7 separate regions of the Homo sapiens genome follow, and regions 2, 3, 4, 5, 6 and 7 are each reported to be linked to region 1. The links are microRNA targets in miRTarBase. Many come from high-throughput screens and were not tested one by one. Region 1 holds a microRNA gene; each other region holds the end of a gene's coding sequence.

Region 1 (3,085 bases):
TCTTTATTTAACTTTTTAGGTTGCATACACGAGGGCCTGCTCTTTTCTCTGAATAATTCCTCAATTCAGCTCTGTCTTTTTTTGTTCCCCTTGGTAGGGCTTCAGTTCATCTCCCAGATTCTTTTTTTTTTTTTTTTTTTTTTTTTTTGAGACAAAATCTCACTCTGTTGCCTAGGCTGGAGTGCAGTGGCACAATCTCGGCTCATTGCAACCTCTGCCTCCCAGGCTCAAGCAACTCTCATGCCTCAGCCTCCAGAGTAGCTGGGATTACAGGCGCACGCCACCATGCCCAGCTAATTTTTTTGTATTTTTAGTAGAGACAGGGTTTCACCCTGTTGGCCAGGCTGGTCTTGAACTCCTGACCTCAAGTGATCTGCCAGCCTTGGGCTCCCAAAGTGCTGGGATTACACACATGAGCCACCAGTGCCTGGCCCCAGATTCTTGAGAAAGGAGTGAATGTCCATTTTTTGAGGCAAATGAGATAATTATTTTGAGAGCCAGGATCCATAATTATAGCTAACAAAAGTTAAAAAGGTCTCTTTTTAGGTCCTGTAAAGGGATGGAGTCATGTGTGTTTCCCAGCATCTAGGACAGGGAGTTATTTAGCTGTATAATATATGTCCCTGAAGTGCTTATGATTATGCCTGTCTTCAATACAATTCACAAAAGGCGTCGTTAATGAAAGTCCATTGTCTTGGATGTTCCCTTCTTATATGTAGAACATTGGCTTTGCAGAAAAAAAATGTTATGTTGACAAATGCAATCATTTTATAAGAAGGTCTCTGAAACAGATTCATCCCTGTTTTTTCAAACAGTATTGCGGGGGGCGGGGGGTGCGGGGGGAAGGAGGAACAACTATGTAATTTCTTCTATGGTTCAAATTTTACAGAGTACACCCAAACTTGCTCATTGTTGGTGTTTGAATCAATAATAAGTGTGGGGATGGGATGGGGGTGGGAACAAAAATGCAAACTTTTCCCGAAGATGGATCTTAATATACCTGAAAATCTACTCTAGAGTGGTTTTCAAAAAAAAAAAAAATATACCTATAAATCCGTTGGTAGTACTTGCTAAGTTTATTCTAGTTGTTTTCCAGAATGCAAATAGGAAAATGAAAATTTCACCATCATTTTTAATGTAATGACAGGTATTTAAAGGAATGGACTTGCATTTGGGCTCTCATGTGTTCTTTCTCTCTGCCTACAATTTAAAGAATTTTCTTTATTCTGCTGGTTTGCCATTTTGGTATCACTTTGCCCAGATTATGTGTTCAGCAGTGAATAAATGAGTCTTCCATATATAAACAGTAAAATGATGAGGTTTACCTAAAGTCCACTGGATTTGTGGAAAAAGTGGAAACCAAGGGAAGCACGTTGGGGAGAACATAGAAGATATTGCTTAACTTTTGCTTTTGTGAGAGTGGGACGAAGTCCTTTCCATTTATGGCATAAAACAATTGAATGGTAGACTCTTTTATTGGATTAATGGTTGTAATATTTTATTTTCAGACATGTCACAGCCCCAAAAGAGAGAAGATATTGAGGCCTGTTGCCACAAACCCGTAGATCCGAACTTGTGGTATTAGTCCGCACAAGCTTGTATCTATAGGTATGTGTCTGTTAGGCAATCTCACGGACCTGGGGCTTTGCTTATATGCCATTCAATATCCCTTCGAGTTATTTCATTCTCCTTCTCTTCCCCTTAGTTTCCTTTAAGAGTGATAAAAATGGAAAAGGGGGCTGAGGTGGAGGAAGGAGACCTTTTGTCCTGAAATGAATGAGGTTCTTCAATGATGAATTAATAGGCTGGCCCTCAATTCCCATATCTCTTGTAACTGGTCTCTGCTGTCAAATTAGAAGGCTGAGCTTACAGGTGAGGCAGCAAGAATTTGAGTGATTGGAACAACTTACTGTTGAGTGATGAGTAAAGAGATAAACAAGGGTTTGTTTTGTTTTCTGTAAGCCTAATTGTTTTCAAAGTTATTATGATATTTTCTGGAAAGTGGCAGATGTGTTTACAGGACCAATTTCACCGTGATTTGGGTTTTTGGGTTTTCCTTTGTTGCAATTCTTCCTCCCCCAATTTCCCCAATAATTTTGCTTCTGAAGATAAGGACTGATAAATCAGAATGGATGTGTTTAACTGCCTAACTATTTATACTTCTATTTATATCCAGCAGTGTAAGAAGGACTTCTTATAAAAAAGAGATCGCCTGTTTAGGTCCAAATTCATATTTGGCCAGAGCTGTTTTATAAGTCTTTATCCTGTTTAAAACGCTGGAATGAAAATAATTTTATCCTCTTGCCTCTTAAATGTCACCATTGTGCCAGGATTGAAAAGCTAAACTGACCACAGATCAAAGCAAAACTGGCTATATTTGTTTCATTCCAACAATGTGAGCTGAGGAGTCTGTAAACAGAACTAGAACCCAGGGTGAAAAGTTGATCAGATTTGGATGACTCTAAAACTTTTGCATGCCCTTTTGGTAAAACATAGTGCCAGAAGTTCCCTTAAGATGTGTGTGTGTGTGTGTGTGTGTGTGTGTGTGTGTGTGTGTGTCCTCTTCTAACAAAAAAAGTCAACATGAAGTAGTTGGTGGGTTAACATTAGAGAAAAGTTTGAAATTCAAGTGGATAAATTCTGTCTCCTCTTAAGACCTACTCAGGAATAACTAAAACTCTTTCTTTTATCCAGTATATAGAAATGAGATTTTGCATTTCCGAATTAGGACAGCCTAGATACAGATGACATATGTATAAAGGGTAGAATTTGGAATTCTGTAATTGCTAGACCAAGACGACATTGTTTCCATGCATTTCCTTTGCATAGCACTGAGGAGGGTTGTCTATGGTGCTCAACCCCCTGCTTGCCAAGAAAGCATTGCTTTATTATAGAATGATGGCATATTACAACCCAAAGTGAAAGACTGTCCTCATTGGTGTGTGTTGTATAAATTGTTTGCCTAAGGCCTTTATCTACACAAAAAGCAAACAATTTGCTTGGTTAGTTTTATATGCCTCTTTGAAGTGGTTAACTTGGAATGAATAAACTGCTAGCAAGTTAAATCAGTACCTCCACTAGATAA
Region 2 (3,085 bases), not on the chromosome of region 1:
GACAACATACAAGCTCTGAGACAGTTTCAAGAGTACAGATAACAGGTGCTGATGTAACATGGTACTGAGTTAATATAGTGGCCTTGCCCTTAAAAATTCTGGGATCCTAAATAGAAACTTCAAACTTGAAATGTTAGTCTTAATAGATCTTACAAATTTAATTCTAAAAAAAAAATGAAGACCCTGGGGAAGAGCACAGAAGGACTGTCCTTGCAGTATGGATGTTGTAGTGCTCAACTGATGCTTCCATTCTATACCCAAATATCAGACCAGTACCTCCTGCCTACTATTCATGATATATTTTCATCTGGTTAGATGTCCAGAGCAAGACATTCTATTTTTGGAGATGCTTTTGTTTTTTCCTTCAAGTAACCTCAAACTACTTATCAGTTTCCTAGAGGAAGTTCTGGCTTCTGGACTGCACAGCCGAAGCAAGGAGAGCTCTCAAGTCACATCAAGGTCAGCGAGCAGAAGATGAAACGGTGGTTGGGGGAAGGGCACAGCTTCCTCTCTTGTCCCCACTACAGGTTTTCCCTACTAAACAAAGGTGTTGGAGAGCAGCTTTGGGTTCTGTGCTGGTTGTTAGAACTCATCTCCAGGTAGCCCACGGATACGTGGTTGGCACAGACACAAGACTCCCAGAGTTGTCCTAACAATAAGTCTGAGCCCATCTCAACCCACTTTTCTCCGGTAGTCTTTATGTATCTGTTAGCACAATCACTTCAGTTACTGATGAATTTTGTTGGGATCTGACTTGGGGAAAGGGTTATCAGAGCCTAGAGGGGCTTAAAAAGTAATCATTTGATGTACATACCACACTCCTTGGCTTCCTTTCTCTTCCCTTAACCCTTTCTGCTTTTCATTAACCACATTCCTGCACAACTCATTTCTGAAAACCTACCATGTTTCTTTACAGAGCCATCCAAAAATTTTTTGTCCCTACATAGCAATTTTCTGTGGCACTGAGAAACCATGTATGACCACAATAAAAATCCATTTTGTGAAAGGATATGAGTGATTTAGTTTTATTTCTTTGAGGCTAATTTATGGGAATTTATGAGGTGGGACATGAGCTGGTTTCACACCAAACATAATGAAGGCATTACTTCTACCTGAAGGATATTTAAAGTATGTCAAGGCAAATAATAAATTCTAGTGTCAATTTCACCTCTCTTGAAAACAGGAGAAAGTGACAGTATCATTATTGCCAGGAAATTAAGGCATCCTCAAATCATCATAGCAAAAATACCAAAGCACAATCCCTCCCTGTTTTGTGTGTGTGTGTGTGTGTGTGTGTGTGTGTAAACTTGTATGTTGACAAATATTCTCTAGCATCAGACAGTAAGGGTCAAACCTATGTCATATTTATATGGCTTTGGGAATATTATTTAGCCTCTTTGTGGCTCAGCTTTCTCATCTATAAAATAGAACCTTCCTCATAGGATTAGAAGAATTAAATGAGATGAGATGATACATGAAAAGTGCTTAAAACACTGGTATACGGTAATCATTTAATAAAATTTGGCTAATAGTAAATAAGATTAATTTCTGTCTCTAAGTTGGGGTTACAGAGTCACATGTAAAATGATTGGACTAATCATTTTAATCATTGCACATCTAATCATTGCACTAATAAGCAGTTCAAAAAATAGAGGGAAAAGCTGAAAGGTCATTCTGTCCCTCTCTTTTTTCCACTCGTCCCAGCTCTCAGCTGTTGTTTCTTTTTTTTTATTATTTTTTATTTTTAGTAGAGATGGGGTTTCACCATCTTGGCCAGGATGGTCTTGAACTCCTGACCTCGTGATCCACCCGCCTCTGCTTCCCAAAGTGTTGGGATTACAGGCGTGAGCCACTGCACTCGGCCTCAGCTGTTGTTTCTTTACACGCACTCATGAAGTAAAATCCAAGTTCTTTTTTTTTTTTTTTTGCTTTTGTGGGTCCCTTTGGGTAATTTTTTCTTCTTCATTTTTTATAAGTATTTAAGACAGCCTGCACTTGGGGATGGAGTATTTTAAATGCAGCATTTTACAAGTTATATAGCCTTTTAAAATATGAAAAACTCCCTCCTCCAAGCAGGAATATCTGTGCTTCTCTTCCTATCAGCAAGATAACGCTGTGGAATAAAAAGAGCAAAAACAGAGACCTTCCTTATGTCATTTTCCTCATTATTCATCTGCTTCCATTGTGCCTACTCAACTGACAATATCAAGAAGTCTAAGAAATGAGCCCTACCATCAGGGTGTTTGATGTCAGAAGTTGGCATTTCTTTATTAAGAATCAAAGACACGTATTTTTGTGTAAGATTTACAGAGCTGATTCCATTTGTACTGGCCCTTTATTTTTGTGCCCTTTAAAAACATCACTTTAATTAAGGTCTTGTATGCTTTTAATAATCCTCTCCCCCATAGGTGGAAATGCCCTGGTCAAAACCTCTGTGTTCCATTTACTCCACAAAAGCCAAGGATATTTGTTTTTAGACAACTGTGTTTGAATAACAGTTTCTGTCCAGTAAACTTGCAAGCAGCAGTTGACAAGTTTTTATCTCTAATAGTTCCCTTCTTTCTCCCTTTAGTGAAGTTATAAAATATTCCGTTATAGAATACAGCTACTAGCAGTCGCGTCTTATCCTCAGATGTTGTTAGAGAGGTACCCCCATCATGAGGTCCTCCCAGTGTCTTATCTTCACCACAGACAGAAACTGGCTGAGAGTGATTTCTGTGGTTTATGTGCGTGTAGTGTCAAGCTCACTGAGGAGCGCTGAGGAGACAGCGCTATAAAAATGTGTATAGGAACACATACGTTCTCAGATTTCTCACTTTAGCATTGGTCTTTGGAAAACAGTCCCACCTACATCCCAATTCAGGTGCCATGAGGTTCACCTGGTGAGACAAACCAGCTTCAAGAATAGGCCAGGGGAAGTGGAAAGGGGTGAGTGACAGGACAAAGGGAGAACAGGTGAACGAAAGTAGGGGCAGGATCACAGGATGGAGCAGGGCAGAGAGAAAGAGAGGACACCAGAGATTTATGTAACATCTTAAGAGAGCAGACAGGCAGGGAAGGTTCTGCAGCCCACATGCATCTGCTG
Region 3 (3,085 bases), not on the chromosome of region 1:
AGTAAAATCACTAGAATAGTCTTTTTAAGTTCTCAGTTACTGGACTGAAAAGATAAAGCTGATGAAAATTGGTGAACAATTTGTTCCTTTCCATAACTACTATCAGATTAATTTAAAAAAGATTATTTTTAAATCTATGCCAACTATGGGAGTAGATCACAAGACAGTCAGTTCCAGTAGCATGTGATTAGGTGGGGGGAGGAAAGGGGGTTATAAAGGAATATTTCTTTGTTTGGGTGACACAAAGATGAATGGTCTATTGTCTTACTGTCTGAAAAGAAAAAACAACTCAACAGTGCCACCTCCTGGAGAAATTACCAAATACACTTTTAAACGCTATTAAATTTGTTCCAATTATCTGTACCTTCACTTTTTAGTATGTTGCTTTTAGTTATCACAGGCTTACAGTACTTATATATTTCCTTCTTCAAACTGTATCAGCTTCTGGGACATGGTAACTTGCATATGGCACTGAGAAAATGTTTGAGTGAATATATTTATTATTTCACTTTTTAAATTGGAAACCCTAGGAACTATATTTCATTTTTGTCTAATGAGATTGACATTAAATATAAAAGTGGCACTGTCAGTTCTCCTTTGTGAGATACTGGACATAAGATTTCACCTTATTTGCAGGACTAAAGTAAATTTATCTTATTACTAAAAACCGTACCTTTCTCCAGGAAACATTCTATAGCAGAAAGATAACATAAAGCAATTACACATCATGAAACCATTGCTGTTCGTAGTAAGATCACTTCTTTAACCTAAGAAAGCTTGTTTTAATATTCTACAAAAAAATCAAAGTTCTACCTCTTTGAAGAATGCCAATTATAGAAGGTACGAAATTTACTGTTTTACCAGGTAAAACACAAATATGCTGCCCAGCCAGTGGGAGGGAAAACAACTTAAGCTGAGGCGAACGGACATAGGCTAAGAGCTACTCCTTAGTATTTGGGCATTTTTCCCCCTATGAAATGCATGTGATTCAGAGACACAACTCACCTCTCCCAAAAGCAACATGGGCTTTATCCATTTCTGCATTAACCTAGAGTTAAAAAGGAATATTGTTTATTGTTTGGCTCTCCCCACTAGAAGTTTCACAGGAGCACAGATCATATCTACCATTTGAACAGCTCTCTGCCTGATGGCTAATACATTTCTTGGCATATAGTAGGTAGGTGCTCAATAAATTTGTTACAGGAATAAATGAGATAGGATTTTCAAGGGTATTTTCTATTAGGATTTAATAAAACAAAGTGATCTTTAGAGAAACAAATCTCCCCATCAACATGCTATACTTAATAAGTGTTAAAATCACTAGAAGTCTCTGGAACATTCAGTAACAATATACTCTAATTCTCTGCTTTCCTTATGTGTTATTCTAGGGCAAAATCCCTTTCTTCCAAATGTTTCCTATCATTGCAGTTTCCAAATGTATATAAACATGTTGTTTTTTGTTGAACTACAGTATGGATTTAGTATGAATTCAGCCTATCCAAATAGTCATAATTTATTAACATATAGTACAACTTCCTACACATCAATATACCCAGAGCCCAGCAAATAATTATGGGGTCCCTGTTAGTGAATTAAATCAATTCTGCATCATCCACATATGGATTAGCCATGTTGTGGACAGTGCAAGTACTTTTCAAATCTCCAGATTTCCCTATTACTCAAGAGCTGGTGATCTGAAACAAGAAAATTTGAGCTGTTCAAGTCCCAACAGCTTAATTTTGTGTGTCCATGGGCACACAGCATTAGATTCTTCATCTGTTAAGTAGTGATACTGATACCATCTTCCCGTGGTAATTTTTGAGGCTGAGATAGAATGATTCTTTAAACAATCTCCACCAATCATATGATGGCAGCTCTAATGGGGAAAGTTCATCATTCATTCCAAAGTCTAATGTAAACTGCTTCTGAATTTTACAATTCTCTTACTGATATAGAGATTTGTAATTGATTGCCAGTGAGGCCAAGGTCATTAATTTAATTCTTAGTCCTTCACTTCGTAAACAAGGAAATCTCTTTCCAAATTGTCTATCAAGACCCAAGAACTGGTACAACACTGTTGATGGCTGATTCCAACCCATCAATGTTTTGAGGAGGACCTCAAAACATGTTCTTCTGATAGTCAATTAGTAGCATCTCCTTATAAGAAAAGCAGCAAAAATACACGTTTGCTCCAGAAATTATAGGGCCGAAATGGATTTACAGTGCTGTTAACATCTATTAACCACTGGGAAGAGCTGGACTAGTTCATTTATCAACACCATGGGATTAATGGATATAGTTGATTCTGTTATAGAGCATCACTAAAACAGTTTTAGAACAGACATCTTCATAGAATAGGGATATTAATAACACTGTCCTTTTGGCCCACTAACATTTGCATTTCAAACAAAAGACTGTATTACAATGGCTGGGCACAGTGGCTCTCGCCTATAATCCTAGCACTTCAGGAGGCAGAGGCGGGAAGATCACTTGAACCCAGGAGTTTGAAACCAGCCTGGGCAATATAGTGAGACCTCATCTCTTAAAAAAAAAAAAAAAAAAAAGACTATTAGAAGAGAACAGTCTATTAACAAATATTTTAAAATTTTCTTTATTTCAGAACTGCCTTTATGTACAGACATCATTTAAAAAATGCACATACAATGGAGATTTTCCAAGGAACAGGAGCTGGAAATAAAATTTAAGGACATTATTAGAACTGAAATTGTCCCAGAGAAGTTCTGAGGATCAGGATTCCTTAAATGTCCTTGATAACCTCTTCAAGTTCTTCCTTTGTGAACATGTGGAAATTCTGGCCAGGCTGCACTGTGGCTAGCTGGAAAGAAAACAGAAGGGTTAATAAGCTGGGCTGAGTTACCCTGCTGATGGCCCTACCATGGTCAGGAGAAGCTGTGTTGGTGATGCAGCTATTCATTAGGAACTAAGGGATCTGCTGTCCCAAGGATATCCTTTCCAGGCAGCAGGTCCCTAAAATAGCTCTCTGGCTCCAAAATAAAAATGCTTATTGACCAAATTTTCTATTTTAAGGTTAACTCACCACATCATACTTAACCAAATGCCTGGC
Region 4 (3,085 bases), not on the chromosome of region 1:
TCTAGAGTTTTCTTAAATCTTTTTATTTATTTATTTTTGAGACAGGATCTCACTATGTCGCCTGGGCTGGTTTGAGACAGGATCTCACTATGTTGCCTGGGCTGGAGTGCAGTGGTGTGATTATGACTCACTGTACCCTCAAGCTCCCAGGTTCAAGTGATGCTCCTACCTAAGCCTTCTGAGTAGCTGGGTAGGGATTACATAGGTGTGCACCACCACACTCGACTAATTTTTGTATTTTTTGTAGAGATGGGTTTTCGCCATGTTGCCCAGGCTGGTCTTGAACTGGGCTCAAGCAGTCGAACCACCTCAGCCTTTCAAAGTGCTGGGATTACAGGCATGAGCCATGGAACTTAAATCATTTTTGAAACATAGTTAATAATGGCCTTCTCAAATTAAGTCAGCTAGTAGAAAAAAGTCTAACATTTTACATCGAGTCCAAAGCTAGTTTGGGGGAAAAGGCTTTTGATCTTTAAATGCCAAGGGGAAAGGTATTTTATCTGTCAAGAGATGATACAATTCAGTGGAATAAAATGTGTATCCACACAGATGACTTTTGCTTCTACCAATTTTATCTTTTATAAAACCCTGACATGGCCGGGTACAGGGGCTCCTGCCTATATCTCAGCACTTTGGGAGCCAACGGGGTAGGATCGCTTGAGCCCAGGAGTTTGAGACCAGCCTGGGCAACACAGTGAGACTTCATCTTTACAAGAATAAAATAAAAAAATTAGCCAGGCATGGTGGTGTACCTATGTAGTCCCAACTACTTGGGAGGCTAAGGTGGGAGGATCACTTGAGCCCCCAGAGGTTGAGGCTGCAGTGAGCCATAATTGTGCCACCATACTCCAGCCTGGGCGACAGAGACCCTGTCTCAAAACAAAACAGGCCGGGTCAGGGTGGCTCACGCCTGTAATCCCAGCACTTTGAGAGGCTGAAGCGGGAGGATTCCTTGAGCTCAGAAGTTCAGACCAGCCTGGGCAACATCAGACCCTGTCTCTTTTTTTTTTTTTAAAGTAAAACAAACAAAAACAAAAAAAAAACTCATGATCCTTTTGTGGTTCATAAGCATGATGATTGGGTATTCACACCCACGTGTGAGATGTGCCTCCCTCAAACCTTGTTACAACTTCAACCATTACCCATCTGACAGTAAAAAAAAAAAAAAAAAAAAGTAAAATTTTAAAAATCATGTCTTATTTCAGCATCTTATATTTTTAAAAACCAATATTTTGGTAGATGACAAATTTATACCATTAATAACTTTATTTTTTTTTCTTTCCTCAACTTTTGTTTTAGGTTCAGGGGATACCTGTGTAGGTTTGCTACATGGGTAAATTGTGTGTTGCTGGGGATTCGTGTACAAATGATTTTATCACCCAGGGAGTGAGCATAGTAACCAATAGCTAGTTTTTCGACCCTCGCCTTCCTCCGAATCTGCCCCTTCAAGGAGGCCCTGGTGTCTATTGTTCCCATCTTTGCGTTCATGTGTACTCAATGTTTAGCTCTCACTGATAAGTGAGAACATGTGGCATTAATCACTTTAAAACATAGTATGACAGATATCATTTTCTTACAGAGCATCAGATATTAATATGTATGGATCACTTTGTTAAATTAACAAAAATCATCTGAAAATCAGCACAATATTTCATTTATTTATTGTATAAGTTTGGCAAACAGCACAAAAATCCAGCAACATTTAAAACATATAAAAAAGTCAAATGCTAAACAGGACTAGGGATTTTTTTTTACATCATTAGAAATAACGAGTACACATTTTAAGATTCTGCAAAGCTAGCAAAATGAAGATGCTTGCCTTCTGAACATATACTACAAACACACATACAAAAAAACAATATAATTTATCTTTACAAAAATTACAGCCAAGCAATAGAAAAGAAGGATGTTAATGATGAAGATAGCAACACATATGTTTAGTACATATATCTTACACATTGAAATGCTACATCTTATACCCTGAAATGCCATGTGTAGAGAGCCAAGCAGAGTAAATTTAGGCTCATTACTGAGGTTAAGAATTATTTGAGAAGAATTTAATTCTTATATGTAACATATTCAGTTAAAACTTTCTATATAGGAGTTGCTAGAGGATGACAATGTATCCCATTATAGATCTGAGAAGTTGAGTCTTCTTTGTTGGCAGTATAAAATTTCTGACCAGTATCAAAATTCTGGTAAAACACAAATTGAAGGCATTTTCTAGTGTATGCAAACATTACAAGGGGCATCAATGAATGTAGAAGAAAATCGTAGATTTTTCACATCAAGTTTCTGCTGAGCTTTGTCAAACCAAATAGCTCAACTATAAGGCAAGAGAAAACAACTCCCTATAACAGATTAGTGGATCTTACCAAGTAAATATAGGAATTCAATCTTAGGGAAAAATTCCCTACATTAATAGATCTGAAACAGCTGGTCTTGAAACAAACATCTAGAAATTAACGAACATCTTGACATTCAGTCATTGGTTCAGAAGCGTGACAAACAATCTGTTGGTATATATTATTAAATTAACTTTTTGGAATCAGCACCAGTCCCCAAAACCTCAAATTATAATATTTAATCTTCATTAAAATATATTTTTTGTGCTACATTAACACGACCACAATTAAGTTAAAGAAAGCTGAATTTATTTAACTTATTGTATATGTTTATGTATACTAGGTAGTGACTTAAATTTCTTTTATTTACTTGTGCTTCTGTTTTGGGGCACTTTGATTGAAGAGAAATTCAATTCACAGGATTACATCTTGCTAAAGCATTCCTTAGCATTGGTCCAAACTTGAATTCCCTAAAAATAAAAATAAAAACTTTAAAATGTGAGTTTGGAAGGAATCTGAAAACCCAAGTACTTGGCTTAGTGGTACACTAAGTTTTGCTTTTTGGAATAATTAAGAAGTCGAGAAAATATGACACTATTTTGGGAAGTGGCTAATATAAGCAAATGTCTAATGCTTCTGAAAAGAGAAACAGAATCTCTAATACGAACTTATCTTCAAAATGGAAAAAGAACTCCTACAACTTGTTGGAAAACTGAGTTAATTCATTTCATATCACATAC
Region 5 (3,085 bases), not on the chromosome of region 1:
CATAATAGGTTCCAATTTTTACCTGTTGAATTTAACATCCAGACAGGGATAACAAATGGGCCATTATTTCTTTAATACTTACTTTTCTTGTCATATTAAGGAATTTCCAAAACTTTGATTGTTGGAAAGGATCATCAGATCTTTCTTGTCTCAAGAACCCTGCACCTACAGGCCTCCTTCCCTTCCTGCTAGAATCCATGGTTTGCATCCATGAATTGACCTACAAATGGACATTCGCAGCAAAATGTACAATGACTTGCAAATGGCATCTGTCTGGTGTTAAAATGTAATTATTTATCCATTGCTACCTATGCAGAGAAAAACCCATCACAACAAAATAATGTATTTTTTAGTTTTTAACACCTTGATCCATGACTTCATTTAAAAAAAAATACATATTATAAAGGCAAGTTACAGGAAAAACGTGGGTTTTCTGCATATGATACCAACTTCAAATGATGCGATAAATACAACTTTGTGTCACAATATACAATACTACCTTAAGGATTATCGTGAGTTTTTAAAATACAATTATTTGACTTTACTAACACACACACAAAATAAAACACTGGCTATCATAAATTGCTAATTTTTTATTTTTTATTTTACTTAGAAAACAGCACAACTTTCACAATAAGTTCCAGGGATAATGGATAAAAATGACATAGCATGTTTTCTTTTCAACTGGAAAGTCCCCCAAAATGTTAAAAGATAATGATGATGACAGCTATTTACGTGGGCATTTTCTGCATGCTAGGAACTGTTTTATGGGGCTTGCATGGATTCACTCATTAAAGAGATTTAAAGATGTCTACTAACATAAATTGTATGCTAGTGACATAAAGAATATTATTTAATGAAGAATCGCAATTTTTCCCCAAGATTATTCCATTTATAAAATACACTACAACTCAGCTAGTATCACTGGGGACCAGAAATACATGTGGGAGAAATTAGAAAAAAAAAAAAAAAAAAAAAACACTTTACAATAATAAGCTACAAGTAAATCTATAATTTTTTCCGTATTATATTTTTCTTCTGAAAGTAGGAATAAAATGTTTAAAATCAATGAACAGGAAAATAATTTTATTTTCAAATAACACTTTAGATGCCAATGTTAAAATTTTAAATATATCTAAAAGTATCCATGTAATTGCCTTATGCAATCAAAGGTGAATTTTTCAACAGTAACTGTAGGTCTAATTGCCCCAAATGTTTTCATTGTAGTATTTCTCTGTATAACTACTGCTATATTATTGTGATTTCCCTGAATATCATTCCAAATAGAGTCATCATGAATACTTTTGATACAAAATCATAATTTTATACAATCTGATGAAACTTCCTAATATAATCTCCAGCAGAAAAGGCTAAAGAGATACATTTTTTAAAAATAGAAAATTCTTTCAGAAGAACTTTACCTAAGAAAACACATGAACCTACTTCTTAAATTATTAAATGTCTTAAAAGTTTGTAAGTAGTTTGGGACATCATTTAGCTACATTCTTAATATTATGGAAAGTTGAAATTTAATAGCCAATCTCTTGTTTACTGCTTTCAGCTATTTTGACCATCAGATTTCTAAAAATTTGGCTCTCTTGCTTAGCTTTTCTTTAAAAACCTATTTGAATCTCTGATGTAGTCTTTGACCCTTATTACTTTAAAAACTATGGAGTCACAAAACCATTTGACTCTTCAGATAACATAGAACACTGAGGGTCTTTGAATCTAGCCTCTCACACATTTGAATCCCCTCTGCCTCATCAACCCAAATGTTTCCCTTCCCCAACACCTGCTAAAGTGGTGAGTTACTCACAATTACTCCATTTTCAGTTTTCATTATTACAAATGTCTTCCCTACACTGAATGGAAATCTTCCCTAAAACTGCCACCTATTGAGAGCTTCAACAGTCTCAGCACTGACCCTGGCAGATGACCTTGGGCAAGTTCATTTCTTGTTGCTTTAGATGCCTTGGTTGTAAAATGGGGATAAGAAATGTGTGTCATAAAGGTGTGGAGATTAAATAAGAGTGTTTATAAAGCACCTGCCACAACGTGGGGTTTATTGGGAATATGAAGCCCTCCTCTGCATGGCTACCCTAGAGATGTGGTGGCAGCTACTACTACTGTTTACATTCCTTCTGGCCAAACATCCCAATTTCCTTCAATGTTTCTTTGAACAACATGGTATTGTCTCCTTTTTCTTCTAGTCATTCCTTTCTGAATAAGTTTAGCTCTTTGAGAGAAGGGTCAACTGTCAATTCAAAAAATATGTATTATCAACTATGTTATCAACTGAGCGCAGCTCCTTACCTATACATGTCATTGAAAGATAATATTTCTCTTTTCCCTGTTGCTGGTTAGATCTTCTCCCCTCCCAATATTTGGACCTCTGGCAAGCTGGGCTACAAGAAAGGCAATAGGTATGGATACTTTCTGTTTCTAAAGTAAGGAGAAGACAGAAGTGCCTCTCAGACATTAGGATATAGTTGAGAAGTTTCTCTCTTCATTCTGGTAGGATGTCAGCTCTTCCTCATCAAGGGTCGCTCCTCTCTGTCCTTTCCATTCCTTCTTCTGGACTTCACAATTCTGGGAGGTGGCTCCATAAGACATCTTCTTTTTGGGACTCGCAAAACTCTCATGGTTGAGTTCTATCTCCTCAGCTAATTCGTCCTGGTCAATGATTCCACATTTCTCCTCAGAGAGATTCTCTGGGTCAGCCCACTCCTGTTTCTCCCCAGAAGCAAAGACCCCATAGAAGATCACACCACTGTAATGCACCAGGGCAGCTATGAGGAACACATTCTGCCATTCTTCACGGGTCTAAATAAGGAAATAAAGTGCCAATTAATGTTTTAACTAAAACTAGAGATTACCAGTATGTCCTGGAGGCCTCCACTGTGAAAAAGCACCTGCCCATTTGGAAGGTGATGCTCTAGAGGCTCCTTGGGCGGGAGGACGTGTGTCAGAAGCACCATCCGGGATTCAAACCAAATTTAAAAGAAAAACTTAAAAAATGAAAGTTAAGACAACAATGAATATGAAAGTTAGACAAAACAATAAATACGTATTTTTTTAATTTAGA
Region 6 (3,085 bases), not on the chromosome of region 1:
AACACAGTCAGAAAGGGCATCAACAGGACAGTGTCAGACAGCAGTGCAGGAAATTTTGCAAATCTGATTCCAGGTTGTAGACGGACTGCTCTCCCCCACCCCTTCGTTATTAAACAGGGCTCATTACATGTGGACCCAGTTGTGGGCCATCCCTGAGATTCAATGTTCGCTGCTTCTCACATGGAGGATGTCTGGTAACTCAACTCAGCAGCAGGCTGTGGCAATCTCCCAAGTAAGGATAACTTTGTTTACAGAGTAATCGTTTCCTCCTCCTTTGTCAACGCAAGTCGCTGTGTGCTGCAGGGGAAGACACGCTTGCTTCCTCCTGCATCGGTACCATTCTCCTTTATTGTTCAATATCTATGAGTGATTTCTAGATGTTGTGGCTTACCCTTAAACAATTCATGCTAAAAATGAATTAAAATACAAGACATTTATACATGTACAAACAAATGTTAAGATGCACCATTTCTATGTATTTATATTTCTCAAAATAGGACAGAAAATAGCAGCAAACAAGAACAAAGATATTTTCCATAGTTTTTGTAGAAAAATCCAGTCAGAAGAGCTAAGGGAAAAAGACTTTTCAATGTAAGCAGGGTTGTGAGGCAATATTGTCCTGAAAATTCACCTACTGTATGTATTTAAGGAATTAGCTTAAGATGTAATTTTTGTCCTCAAAAATAGCCATTAGTTCTCAAAACTTTCCCTTCCAGAGACATCTCTCAGGAATCTAAAAACAAACAAGCAAACAAACAAAAAGACACAAGCTAGACATAAAGCTGCTTCTAGTTAATATACGGCCTAGTCTCTGTGTGTATCTACAGGACGCTAACTCTCACCCTTTGTCTTTTGCAGGAACCAATTTTCCATTAAATACTAAAGGGGACATTTAAAAAATCACATAGTACACAAATGAATAAAACGCAGTTCAGAATTTTATCTTTGTTAAACTGTCACTGTTATCTCATTGTTCTGTTAACTTTTCAAATAACTCTCTTGGAAACAAAAAAAACCTGTTGGTTAGCTAAGCAATGGAATTCTTTATTAATAACTGACAATGGAATAGTGCTCCAAAAGTCATGGCTAAAAATTCTCTTAAACCTACCTGTAACTTTGGGTCAAAATATACAACATATCCGGGTTGTGTAAAATGTCGAGCGGCTAAATTAGAGGGGGACATAACGGAAGTGATTTTCCTTCGGCTGGAAAAAAATCCCCAGAGTCAGACCTAGTTTTCAGAAGCATTAAGATCAAAAAGGGTTTGTTCTAAAGCATGGCATTCCACAGCAACATTTATTCTACTTGTCCGTTTTAGCACTTTTTCAAAAACCCAGGACTAAGGACATGGAGGTTGATGTGTATGATACACACATACAGACTTATCCACTTACAGATAGGCCCATATACTTACAAACATTTACATATAAACAAAAGGTGAAAACAGTACATTTTTATGCACGCTCCATTAAACCCTGTCATTTTTTTAAAACTTGTAAGTGAAACACAGTTTAAATCAATATCAGATTCATGTTGAAAAACAAACTGCTGTATTCCTCCCACTCCTTTCAAATGGGCACACAGAACCTTCTCAGTATTTCTGTCATTATGTAATGCACATTGCACATCCCTAAAAAACACCAAAAACGAATAGTGATTTGTACCATGACACACTCAATGGGGAGATTAAATTCTACTTGGAAGTCACATCACTACACAGTCTAATAGTATGGAGAATACAACTAGAAGTATGTCCAGTGTGGAAAATAGAAGCTTAGAGTATGACAGTATTTTTTGACCTGTTTACAAAGCATTAAGACCAAAATGAAATAAATGAGTTGCTATTAGCTGCTGAGATTTTTCTTGAGATTTACAGTCATTTTCTTACATAAATATACCACTAGCCTCTGCGTGATAGGCTGCCAAAACAAATATATCCTACTGATTTGGCAAATGTGTCATGACAAAAATTCCAATGTATAATCCCCATTCATTACATAGATGGTTCAGAAGATTCTGAATTGTAGCCTTATCATCTAAAATCCTTACAGAAGATTTATTAAGCACACTTAAGTGATGTTACATAGATACACATTTCAGAAAAAGCCCTAATAACCACCACTTTTCCCCAAATGAGGCCATCAAGTCAGGCACCAACAGATAGCAGAAAGAAAAACAGGAATTAATAATCCAACATAAAATGACACTGTCAACTATTCAGTTTAGTGCCCTAGTTCAATTGATTCAACTTCTGCCTTCTTAGGCCTGGTGTGACCAATGCCAGCCCAGGTTTTTAAACCCTATGGTACTTCTAGACAACGTATGTAAATTTACAGTATACAATTTGGATTCACCATGCATGAATACTTTGTGTGTAACATTTAATAAGCTCAATCTACATCCAGAATAATTTACATGAAAGGACAATATTTATTTAAACAGAGCTCAATGGGGTAACCATGGTATCATCAGAGTGCATCCAGAGGAAAAGAGGGAGGAGGGGCCGAAGGAGACACAATCAACGGCACTCCCACACTTTTACTGTTTGATCTACGCTGCCAGTGACGACATAGGGTGCCGTCTTGTGGAAATCTGAAAGAAAAAGAAATGGTTTATTTAAAACTCACACGTAAGCCTGGACAACAAACATAGTGAGACCCCCTCTCTACAAAATACAAAATTAAAAAAAAAATTAGCCGGGCATGGTAGTGTGTGCCTGTAGTCCCAGCTACTCGGGAGACTGATGCAGAACTGTTTGAGCTGGGAAGTCGAGGCTGCAGCGAGCCATGACTGCACCACTGCACTCCAGCCTGGGTGACAGAGCAAGACCCTGCCCGGTCCCAACCCTCCATCACACTGAGCCAGATACAATTTTTAATGAGCCACAAAATTCTAAGAAAGTCCAAATGCCAGTAGTTTTCGTGTTTCTCTAATATACCATAACCCAAGAAGGTATCTAGTTTGCCAATTCAGTTAGGGAAGTTGAGACTCAATGATCAAATCCTGTATTAACATCTCAATAAAAACGCCTGTTCCTCTTTGGCCCATCCCAAATGGGGCTCAAATCCTTTTTCTTCTTTTTTCA
Region 7 (3,085 bases), not on the chromosome of region 1:
TGATATGCTAGCTTTTCCTCTGAACGTCCTGGCTTCCTTTAAATTTATATCATAATCTAGACATCATTTTCTGTCCTGCAAATTGGCCCAATCAGAACTACATATGAGCCAACATGTGCACATCCCATTCAATTTTCCCCTTTGAAGTTGTACCTGAACTCAAATAATGGAAGTCATTAAGTCCTTCAGGCAGAATCAGCCAATGATTCAGAAAGTCTCAAACTATTTTTACTCTCATGCTCAAGGATAAATTCAAATTATCCTAATTATATTAAAACCAAAATAAAAGCTTTATTTTAAAAGTCTTATTTAAAATTCAAATCTAAAAAAAGCCTTAAAATTTTCTATTTTGACTCAGCAGTAGATATAGCATCTCTGTTCAAGCAGATGATTCTTTTTCTCTGCATGCTTATTAAAAGCCTATTGTTAAATGTGAAATCTTCACTCAGTCACAGCAGGATGGGCTCTGCTGTGGTTAAAAACAAAAAAGCACAACCAAATCTCAGTGGCTTAACATAATTAAAAGCTTATTTTTTGATCATACAAAGCCCACTGTGGATCCAGCTGACCTACACAGACTCAAGATCAAAGCCACTTTCATCTTGTGGCTGCACCATTTCAGCTGAGGCCTCCTGCACAGTGCTGTGGCAGAGGAAAAGGGTTTGTCATGAGATAGTCTGATAGTGACACACACTACTTCCACCCATGTTTAACTGGTCAGAACTAGCCATCGCCTACCTACAAGAGGGCTGGGAAGTGTAGTTTTCTTTATGCTAGGAAGGAAAGTAGTACAGACATTGCATTTCTGCAAAGGATTGAAATATAATCCATATCTGATGATCTATTCTGGCATAGATTTTGGAGAAGCTAGAGAGAAAAACAAATAGTTAACTAGTCAAACTGGTGATTTCAAATATGCCAGCTTCAGTGAGTCTGACAAATGACAGATGAGTGATAGTGGTAAATCTGTAATTCTAAAACTGCTATAGCCAGACATATAGTGTAGGTTAAAATGAAAACCATGTAGATACCCAAGCAAGCAGTCATTAAGGTGTGGAAGCTTACAATTTGCAAGCACACCTCACATCAGCAAAGATGCGGCAGTAGAGAGGTATATAGGTGCAGTCGATTCTATCAGAGAAGAGTTTCATGTCTTCTCAAATAGTCATAGGTACTTGTTGAGCCCCCAGTGTGCTGTATATGAGACAACTTTAGGCTGGAAAGTGATTAAGAGAATGCATAGCTGACCTCTTCACCCACAAATAAAAGTGATTTAAAGAATGAAAAACTAGAGGCCGTGCGCGTTGGCTCACGCCTGTAATTCCAGCACCTTGGGAGGCCGAGGTGGGCTGATCATGAGGTCAGGAGATCGAAACCATCCTGGCTAACACGGTGAAACCCGGTCTCTACTAAAAATACAAAAAAATTAGCCGGGTGTGGTGGCAGGCGCCTGTAGTCCCAGCTACTCGGGAGGCTGAGGCAGGAGAATGGCGTGAACCCAGGAGGCAGAGCTTGCAGTGAGCCGAGATAGTGCCCCTGCACTCCAGCCTGGGCCACAGAGCAAGACTCTGTCACAAAAAAAAAAAAAAAAAAAAGAATGAAAAACAATCTCTGTACATCAGAACTAGAAAAAAATTAATTCCTCCCTTCACTTTTCCCTATCCCACCTCCACCAAAGTTAAATAAGTTGACCTGCTGAATTAGGTTAAAATTGATTATCATGCTTATCAAGTATGATTTTAATTTCAGTAAAATTGATACTGAGCTCTACTGTTGATAACTGACCAGCTCTATTGGTAATTCCAACCTGCGTTACTCAAGATTATTTATAGCCCCAAAGAGCAAAACCACATTTGCTACAACACCAATTATTAAAATGTGTCAGGTGCACATTCAATTATATTATAACATGATTCTCTTATTTAAAAAAAAAATAAGAAAATGCAGCAAGAATAATTTGACAGTTTTGGGAACTATCCACATAAAGGAATGGATGAGGCAAGATAATGTACAATACCACAAAACCTATGCTAAATTCAATATTTATCTGAAAGTTAAAGAAAAGCAAACAAACATATACAAAGGACATTTCATTTTTAATCACTCAAAAATGAAAAAGGTTTGGACAATGTCAAATTCCACTCACCATAATGCTATAGTTATACATTAAATATAATTACTATCTATACATATGCAAAAATATAAAGTTCTATTTCATACAATAAAACCCTTTATAGAAACCATTTTAAAATTAAGCAGAACTTCTCAACATTAATATGTGAGGTCTAAGTCCTTCTAAAGGTTTCTTTAAAGGTTTTTAAACAAAATGCTAAACCTAAAAACATTGTCCTGTCAGTTCCCAAATTAAATCTACTTAGAACAAAAACAAAAATTTATAGCTCGGTCACATACTACTTAAATAATATTGTTCAGGCATCTCTAAAATCCTCCATGTTTTCAAGTATGGAAATAGAACTCAAATATTCCACAATACAGTACTAAACAGATGGAGTATTTAGGAAAGACTTTGTTGTCATATGGCACAATATTAATATTTTGTTGCTTCAATACATTTTGAAATAAATATCAGATTTTTGTTTTTTTTTCCTAAAAGACCAAAATTATAATCTACATTAAGATAATTCTGACTGTGGTTAAGACTTAAGAGTGTAAAATACAACATCAATATTTTATCACAAAAGTAAAGCTGGTAACAAATTATAAAAGGAGCCAGTACTCTACTGAGACAGGCTCAGAGATTAAAGCTCATCATGATAGAAATAGTCATCATGGAGCTGTCTGCCATAATCTGTGGCTTCACTGGTGAGAAACAAGTCCGGGTTTTCCAGAATCTCTTCTTCAGAGAGCTTTTTGTCACCATTCAAATCCATTTCATCAATTAGATGAAGCGCCTTCAAAATAAAACAAAAAAGTGTCAAGTGTAATAAGTATTTTCAGCAAGATGTTCACAATTTAATGTGATTTGACTTGTCAAAATCATCCAGGTGTACAAGTACTCATTATTGTTTAAGTATCTAAAAATGTTACACGTTGTAACCAGGTCCGTCTACTGCTTTTCCCATTA

Evidence for each region. The annotated mature microRNA hsa-miR-100-5p reads AACCCGUAGAUCCGAACUUGUG and lies in region 1 at 1,557-1,578, shown strand. An mRNA with a match to its seed (bases 2 to 7 or 8) in the 3' UTR can be bound and repressed. Matches are read on the target gene's strand: a 7mer-m8 pairs with bases 2 to 8, a 7mer-A1 pairs with bases 2 to 7 and ends in A, and an 8mer does both.
Region 2: the mRNA of VPS45 is a reported target of hsa-miR-100-5p. The part of its 3' UTR that is shown has no 7-base or 8-base seed match.
Region 3: the mRNA of PSMA5 is a reported target of hsa-miR-100-5p. The part of its 3' UTR that is shown has no 7-base or 8-base seed match.
Region 4: miRTarBase lists SNX4 as a target of hsa-miR-100-5p. The part of its 3' UTR that is shown has no 7-base or 8-base seed match.
Region 5: miRTarBase lists SLC17A8 as a target of hsa-miR-100-5p. The part of its 3' UTR that is shown has no 7-base or 8-base seed match.
Region 6: the mRNA of PAFAH1B1 is a reported target of hsa-miR-100-5p. The part of its 3' UTR that is shown has no 7-base or 8-base seed match.
Region 7: miRTarBase lists RCN2 as a target of hsa-miR-100-5p. The part of its 3' UTR that is shown has no 7-base or 8-base seed match.

What each region holds. Positions count from the first base shown.
Region 1 is chr11:122,150,768-122,153,852 of GRCh38, reverse strand. It overlaps MIR100 (microRNA 100), which reads left to right and starts at 1,545; the gene lies at 1,545-1,624. The region is part of intron 4 of MIR100HG (mir-100-let-7a-2-mir-125b-1 cluster host gene); the gene reads left to right. It overlaps MIR10526 (microRNA 10526), which reads left to right and starts at 1,697; the gene lies at 1,697-1,750.
Region 2 is chr1:150,144,319-150,147,403 of GRCh38, forward strand. VPS45 (vacuolar protein sorting 45 homolog) reads left to right here. Exons shown (of 15, transcript NM_007259.5): 15 at 391-1,011. The coding sequence ends at 478. Among named protein-coding and RNA genes, the nearest start is that of PLEKHO1, 4.1 kb to the right of the region's middle.
Region 3 is chr1:109,399,255-109,402,339 of GRCh38, forward strand. PSMA5 (proteasome 20S subunit alpha 5) reads right to left here. Exons shown (of 9, transcript NM_002790.4): 9 at 1-2,836. The coding sequence ends at 2,759. Among named protein-coding and RNA genes, the nearest start is that of SORT1, 2.9 kb to the left of the region's middle.
Region 4 is chr3:125,445,012-125,448,096 of GRCh38, forward strand. SNX4 (sorting nexin 4) reads right to left here. Exons shown (of 14, transcript NM_003794.4): 14 at 1,639-2,815. The coding sequence ends at 2,768. It overlaps LOC124906351 (small nucleolar RNA U13), which reads left to right and starts at 1,050; the gene lies at 1,050-1,152.
Region 5 is chr12:100,419,553-100,422,637 of GRCh38, reverse strand. SLC17A8 (solute carrier family 17 member 8) reads right to left here. Exons shown (of 12, transcript NM_139319.3): 12 at 583-2,823. The coding sequence ends at 2,479. Among named protein-coding and RNA genes, the nearest start is that of NR1H4, 53 kb to the left of the region's middle.
Region 6 is chr17:2,681,236-2,684,320 of GRCh38, reverse strand. It overlaps PAFAH1B1 (platelet activating factor acetylhydrolase 1b regulatory subunit 1), which reads right to left. Exons shown (of 11, transcript NM_000430.4): 11 at 1-2,592. The coding sequence ends at 2,519. Among named protein-coding and RNA genes, the nearest start is that of MIR6776, 10 kb to the left of the region's middle.
Region 7 is chr15:76,948,897-76,951,981 of GRCh38, reverse strand. It overlaps RCN2 (reticulocalbin 2), which reads right to left. Exons shown (of 7, transcript NM_002902.3): 7 at 1-2,912. The coding sequence ends at 2,760. Among named protein-coding and RNA genes, the nearest start is that of RCN2, 19 kb to the right of the region's middle.